Regions from separate parts of the Homo sapiens genome. Here region 1 is linked to region 2. The links come from fine-mapping of genetic effects on gene expression. A gene starts in region 2. The other region holds a variant in brackets. All regions are shown on one strand. Distances are from middle to middle. Region 1 overlaps LAMP3 (lysosomal associated membrane protein 3). Region 2 holds the start of LAMP3 (lysosomal associated membrane protein 3).

Region 1 (2,906 bases), 32 kb after region 2:
TTGCTTTGGGGAGGCCATGCCAGGTGTGCTTGATGCCCTCTGCCATACCTGAATATACCAGTGCTGGCTTCCGGAATTAGGGGCAATAGGCAGAGACATGAGTGGGGTGCTTGTGAGAAGGGAGAAAGCGAAAACCCGGAGGGAGAATTGTGGGGAAGACGTTTACAAATTGACTGATTTTTCTTATACATTTTCAAGAGTCCTGATTTTCAGTTTTTAAAAACATTACTTTAAAAAAACCAATGCATTTCAAAGTTGATTACAAAATGATTTTAAACTCCTGGATTTTACCCAAATTTTGTTTACTTAAATTATAGATGATCTTAATATGCTATTATTTTAAAAAAACATATCCTACTCTATTGTAATGTATTATCAGTTTAAAAAATTAGGAAACTGCCTATTTCACTTTTTTAATTTAAAGCACATATCAAAGATCATGGCAAAAAAGGAGGGGCTCAATAAATGTTAGCCCTTCAGTTGCTTCAATTTCATGTGTTGTCTGCCTTCTTAGCTACTTTTTTCCGGGTTTGTCGGCTTTTCTTTGATGTTATTTTATTCTTGTAAATGTGTCCATTTGGACCATTGCAGGACAGGAGGGAGACAGAGCAGGGAGACAATATGGAATGGCAAGCAGGAAGAGGTAGACCTGCCTGGAGGATCACTCACTTCCCTTTTACGCAAACATTCACCAAAAGCAGTACATTCCTGATGGGGGACGGTTGATATCTGAGGGAAAAATTCTATTAAAATATGGCTTAGGATGTTATTCATGGTTTCCTATTACATTGATGGGGGTTTTTCATTCAGAGAAAAAGGAGAGGTATGTTCTTAATTGATTCTACTGACTGGAAGTTTTCTTGTTTTTCCAAATTTTCCAGAGGTGCCATTCATTATTTTTAACATGACATTTATGAAATTTGGCAACAACTCTAAAACTACTGCCTACTTAGGAAATGTACTGACTCTCCCAGGAGGCATTTTTGCTCTCCTTGTTTTCTTAGAATTGGGGCTGTGGGGAGGGCACACCGCAGCTTCAAAAGAGCACTAAGAGCCCCTGAAGACATCCAGAGTGTCAGAAAATGTCTGTTTCCCTCTTAAAACAGATGTTGATGACAATCTGATATGAGGACCCGGGAGTTCCCCAAAGAGACTCGGGCTTAACAGCAAGAGCTTGGCTTTGGAGAGCTGTGATCTCCTTCCACCTCCTCCTTCAAACTGGCACCTGCTCCAGGCTCCCCTGTGTCCAGTGTTAAGGGCACTCGAAAGTTCTGTAGGGCAGAGGACAAGGTGTTTATTCACC[A/G]GCCACTCACTCTTCTGCAGAATGATTAATGTAAGATTTACCTTCTAGCATGTGGAAATTTCTCCCCTAGCAGATGAAACAAGAAGCAGAATTTAAAATCAAGTATAGAGGGATATGACCACTTAAATTTAATTTTCCTCCCTACCTTCTTCAGTGAGTTCTTTTGGATGATGGCCACTGCTTGGACTCCTGCTATCTATTCCCCCGACCCCAGTACTGATTATTTTTAGAATTAATTTGAATTAGCATTCTGGTAACCACAAAAAGCAAAGGTTTCATTGGAATGGCCAGTAAATAAACGCTTGGATGTGTAATTTACTCACAGTCCTGCCCACTTTCCAGGTGGAGAGCAGAGGGGGCAGTGGAGCTGGGCTCCTCACCTGCCTCCCCTCCTAACCACACACACATTCACCCTAAGAAGCCTGTGATGAGAGGGAAAAAAATTCTGTGAACTCCTCCATTACTAAACCTGGAGGAAAAAAAAAAGAGTGGGTTGCTTTATTTTCTTCGTTTTCCAACCTAGGGTAGTGAAAATGGCTCCCAGGAAGACTGGGAAGAGTAAAGGGAGGGACAGACGGAGGTGAACTGGGGAAGAAACCCCAAAGCAGACGATCGCTCCAGGCTGCAGCTAGTTTCCATGCTACAAAAAAGAGAATAGAATCCAAATATCTAACCCAAAGGGAAACATTAACTGATCTCAGATGCAATGGAAAGAAAGACCATAATTCACCCAAACGGCATCATAGGAAATGGAGTATCTCGACTGCCACGCTCAAGCATGAGCAAGATGAAAACAAACTGCATGGCCACTGTGCCAAAATACTGCAGCAAAATAAGAATAGTTTGAAATTAAATTAAGAAAAGGAGTGAGGCCAGGCACGGTGGCTCACGCCTGTAATCCCAGCACTTTGGGAGGCCGAGGCGGGCGGATCATGAGGTCAGGAGATCGAGACCATCCTAGCTAACATAGTGAAACCCCGTTTCTACTAAAAACACAAAAAATTAGCCAGGCGTGGTGGCAGGCGCATGTAGTCCCAGCTACTCGGGAGGCTGAGGCAGGAGAATGGCGTCAACCCGGGAGGCAGAGCTTGCAGTGAGCCAAGATGGCACCACTGTACTCCAGCCTGGGTGACAGAGCGAAACTCCGTCTCAAAAAAAAAAAAAAAAAAAAAAGGAGTGAGGGTGTATTAGTTTGCTAAGACTGTCTTAGTAACATACCACAGTCTGGATGCCTTAAATAACAGAAATGTATATTCTCACAGTTCTGGAGGCTAGAAATTCAAGGTCAAGGTCTCAGCAGCATTGGTTTTTCTGAAACTTCTCTCCTTGGCTGTAGATGGCCTGTGTCTTCACGTGGTCTTCCCTCTGTACCTGTCTGTATCCATATGTCCTCTTTGTGTAAGGATACCATTCATATTGGATAGAGGCCCACCCTAATGACCTCATTTTAACTTACTGACTTCTTGAAAGACCCTGTGTCCTAATACATGTTCTGTGGTCCTGGAAGTTAGGGCTTCACCATGTAAATTTGGGGGCAGGGAGGGGATACAATTTAGTCCATAACAGAAAGTTAGAAATGAAAATAGTAAAATACAAAGAAAAC
Region 2 (2,906 bases):
TGGCACGCGCCTTTGGTCCCAGCTACTCAGGAGGCTAAGGTGGGAGACTCACTTGAGGCCAGGAGGTCGAAGTTGCAGTGAGCCGAGATCACGCCACTGCACTCCAGCCTGGGTGATAGAGCGAGACCCTGACTCCAAAAAAAAAAAAAAAACGATATTGTGTGTTTTTTGTTCCAGGATTTTCTGGTCTGTAAAACCACCTGGGGCCAGGCACAGTGGCTCACGCTTGTAATCCCAGATCTTTGGAAGGCCGAGGCGGGCGGATCACCTGGGGTCAGGAGTTTGAGACCAGCTTGGCCAACACGGTGAAACCTGGTCTCTACTAAAAATACAAAAAATTAGCCGGACGTGGTGGCGCACATCTGTAATCCCAGCTACTGTGGAGGCTGAGGCAGGAGAATCGCCTGAACCCAAGTTTGCAGTGAGCCGAGATCACGCCATTGCCCTCCAGCCTGGGCGACAGAGTGAGACCCTGTCTCAAAAACAAAAACAAAAACAAACAAACAAAAACAAAGAAAGAAAAAGAAAAAAGAAAATAAAAAAACACACTGGGAGTGGGCATTATTATGTCCGTTTTACAGCTGAAGAATCCAAGGCTCCTAGAGGTTCCCCGACGCCGCACGCCGGGGAGTCGGCAGCGCGAGCTCCCAGCCAGACCTAGCGCCTCTGGGCTGTGCTCCTGTTGCTTCCCGCAAACCGCGGTCCTGGCGAGGCCTGGGCGTGGAGCGCGGCTGCCGCAGACTCCCTGGGAAGACATGGAGTCAGGGTGCTTAGGGGTTTTTAGGCTCCTGCTCGCCTAGTGGCTGGCTTTCTCCCGGCTGAGAAGCGTCTCTGGGTTCCCAGAAAGGTACCCGAGCTGTTAGAAAAGAGGAGACCCTGGGCCGGGCGCAGTGGCTCACGCCTGTAATCCCAACACTTTGGGAGGCCGAGGCGGGCGGATCACAAGGTCAGGAGATCGAGACCAGCCTGGCCAACAGGGTGAAACCCCGTCTCTACTAAAATACAAAAATTAGCTGGGCGTGGTGGCGGGCGCCTGTAACCCCAGCTACTCGGGAGGCTGCGGCAGGAGAATCGCTTGAACCAGGGCAGTGAGCCGAGATCCCGCCACTGCACTCCAGCCTGGCGACAGAGCGAGACTTTGTCTCAAAAAACAAAACAAAACAAAACAAAACAAAAGAAATAAAAAGAAAAGAAATAAAAGAGGAGACCCTGGCCGGGCTCGGTGGCTCACGTCTATAATCCCAGCACTTTGGGAGGTCGAGGCGGGCGAATCACGAGGTCAGGAGCTCGAGACCAGCCTGGCCAATATGGTGACACCCCGTCTCTACTAAAAATACAAAAATTAGCCGGGTGTGGTGGTGCATGCCTGTAATCCCAGCTACTCGGGAGGCTGAGGCAGAAGAATCGCTTGAACCCGGGAGGCAGAGGTTGTAGTGAGCCGAGATCGCGCCACTGCACTCCACCCTGGGCGACAGAGCGAGACTTCGTCTCAAAAAGAAAAGAAAAAGAAAGGAGGAGACCCAGGGTATGAGCGGAGGAGGCCGGCGCTGCCGGGACCACGCGCGTGCGGTAAACGGTCCCAGAGGCCCGGGCCCCGGCGGCTGCGCCGAGTCCCCGCCCCTCCCTGCTCCGTAGGGGTAGGAGGGGGCCGGCGGAGTTTCCCTCCCCGCCCAGCGGCCCTGGGCGGGCTTTTCGGCTGCTTCTCATAAGCAGGTGGTTTCGTTTCTCCGGCACAGGTAGGTTTCTCTGGCACCGATTCGGGGCCTGCCCGGACTTCGCCGCACGCTGCAGAACCTCGCCCAGCGCCCACCATGCCCCGGCAGCTCAGCGCGGCGGCCGCGCTCTTCGCGTCCCTGGCCGGTGAGTGGCCCTCAGCGCTTCCCGCGGTGGCCCTGACGTGTCGGTCCCCTTTCATCTAAACGCACTCTGGAGTCCCGGGCGCCACAGGACGGGCTGCGGGTAGGGAGGTGTGGCGCGTCCAAGGGCTTCCCAGCTGGAACTTGTTTTCCGTGAGTTACTCAGAGCAGGTGTCAACCCCAAAGACAGTGACACTGTCCCTCGCTTCCAAAAGGGTTCTGGACACCTTCTCAGGGAGAGTTTGTAGAGGTCACTCGGATTTAAGAGATGGAGACCTGAGCTAGGGTTTAGGAATGGGAGTCTTGGCTTTGTTATCCGGGAAAAGCGCTCCTGTCTTGCTTTTCCTTGCATCAGATGTGGTCTGACAGATTGTGCCATTTCAGAAAGGTGTAGGAAGAGTGTCAAAGACTTTTTTTTTTTTAAATGATCATTGTACTTCCCATCCCAGATGCCGTCTGGGACGCTGAGTTTATGATTATTTTATGATCCGACCCTCCGCTTTCTCCAGAGCTTTTCCCCCTAGACATTGAGTCCTCGGGTGCTGTGGTGTTGTCCCTGTGATGAAGTTTCCTGGTTACTCGAACGTCATGAGAGAACTGTCTCCGTCCCTACCGCCCGGCTAACATGCTCAAGCAGGGGGCGCGGTGGCCCTTGCTTGTAACATGAATGCTAGGAATGTTAGGGAAGAGGTGAGAAGGGTCGTGCCAGCTGCCCTTGCCTAGGCAGTTCTCCCCTGCGCCACACTTTCACACTTACAGTTTCAGGTTCTTTTAGGGGACAGAAGAGGAAGTCATCATCACGCTCCACAGGGCAAGCTATTAAAAAAGCAAAACAATCTCAGCCTAGCGGTAACCCACAGTGACCTGTATGTGAGCGCTCCTTGAATGGATGGATAGGCTCAGAAACACAATGGTATTGACAGGCCAGGCGTGGTGGCTCACACCTGCAATCCCAGCACTTTGGGAGGCTGAGGCCGGCGGATCACTTGAGGTCAGGAGTTCGAGACTAGCCTGGCCACCGGTGAAACCCCGCCTCTACTAAAAATACAG

Evidence for each region. PIP is the estimated chance that this variant, and not a neighbour inherited with it, causes the effect. A credible set is the group of variants that fine-mapping cannot tell apart.
Region 1: its variant is the best candidate, but not a certain one, in a credible set for the expression of LAMP3 in lung (TOPMed, PIP 0.86).

Annotation. Positions count from the first base shown.
Region 1 is chr3:183,129,725-183,132,630 of GRCh38, reverse strand. All of the region lies in intron 5 of LAMP3 (lysosomal associated membrane protein 3), which reads left to right. Among named protein-coding and RNA genes, the nearest start is that of LAMP3, 32 kb to the left of the region's middle. The variant A/G (reference allele first, on the strand shown) is at 1,304.
Region 2 is chr3:183,161,561-183,164,466 of GRCh38, reverse strand. It overlaps LAMP3 (lysosomal associated membrane protein 3), which reads left to right and starts at 1,733. Exons shown (of 6, transcript NM_014398.4): 1 at 1,733-1,860. The coding sequence starts at 1,812. RefSeq lists a silencer at 1,523-1,732 and an enhancer at 2,345-2,554.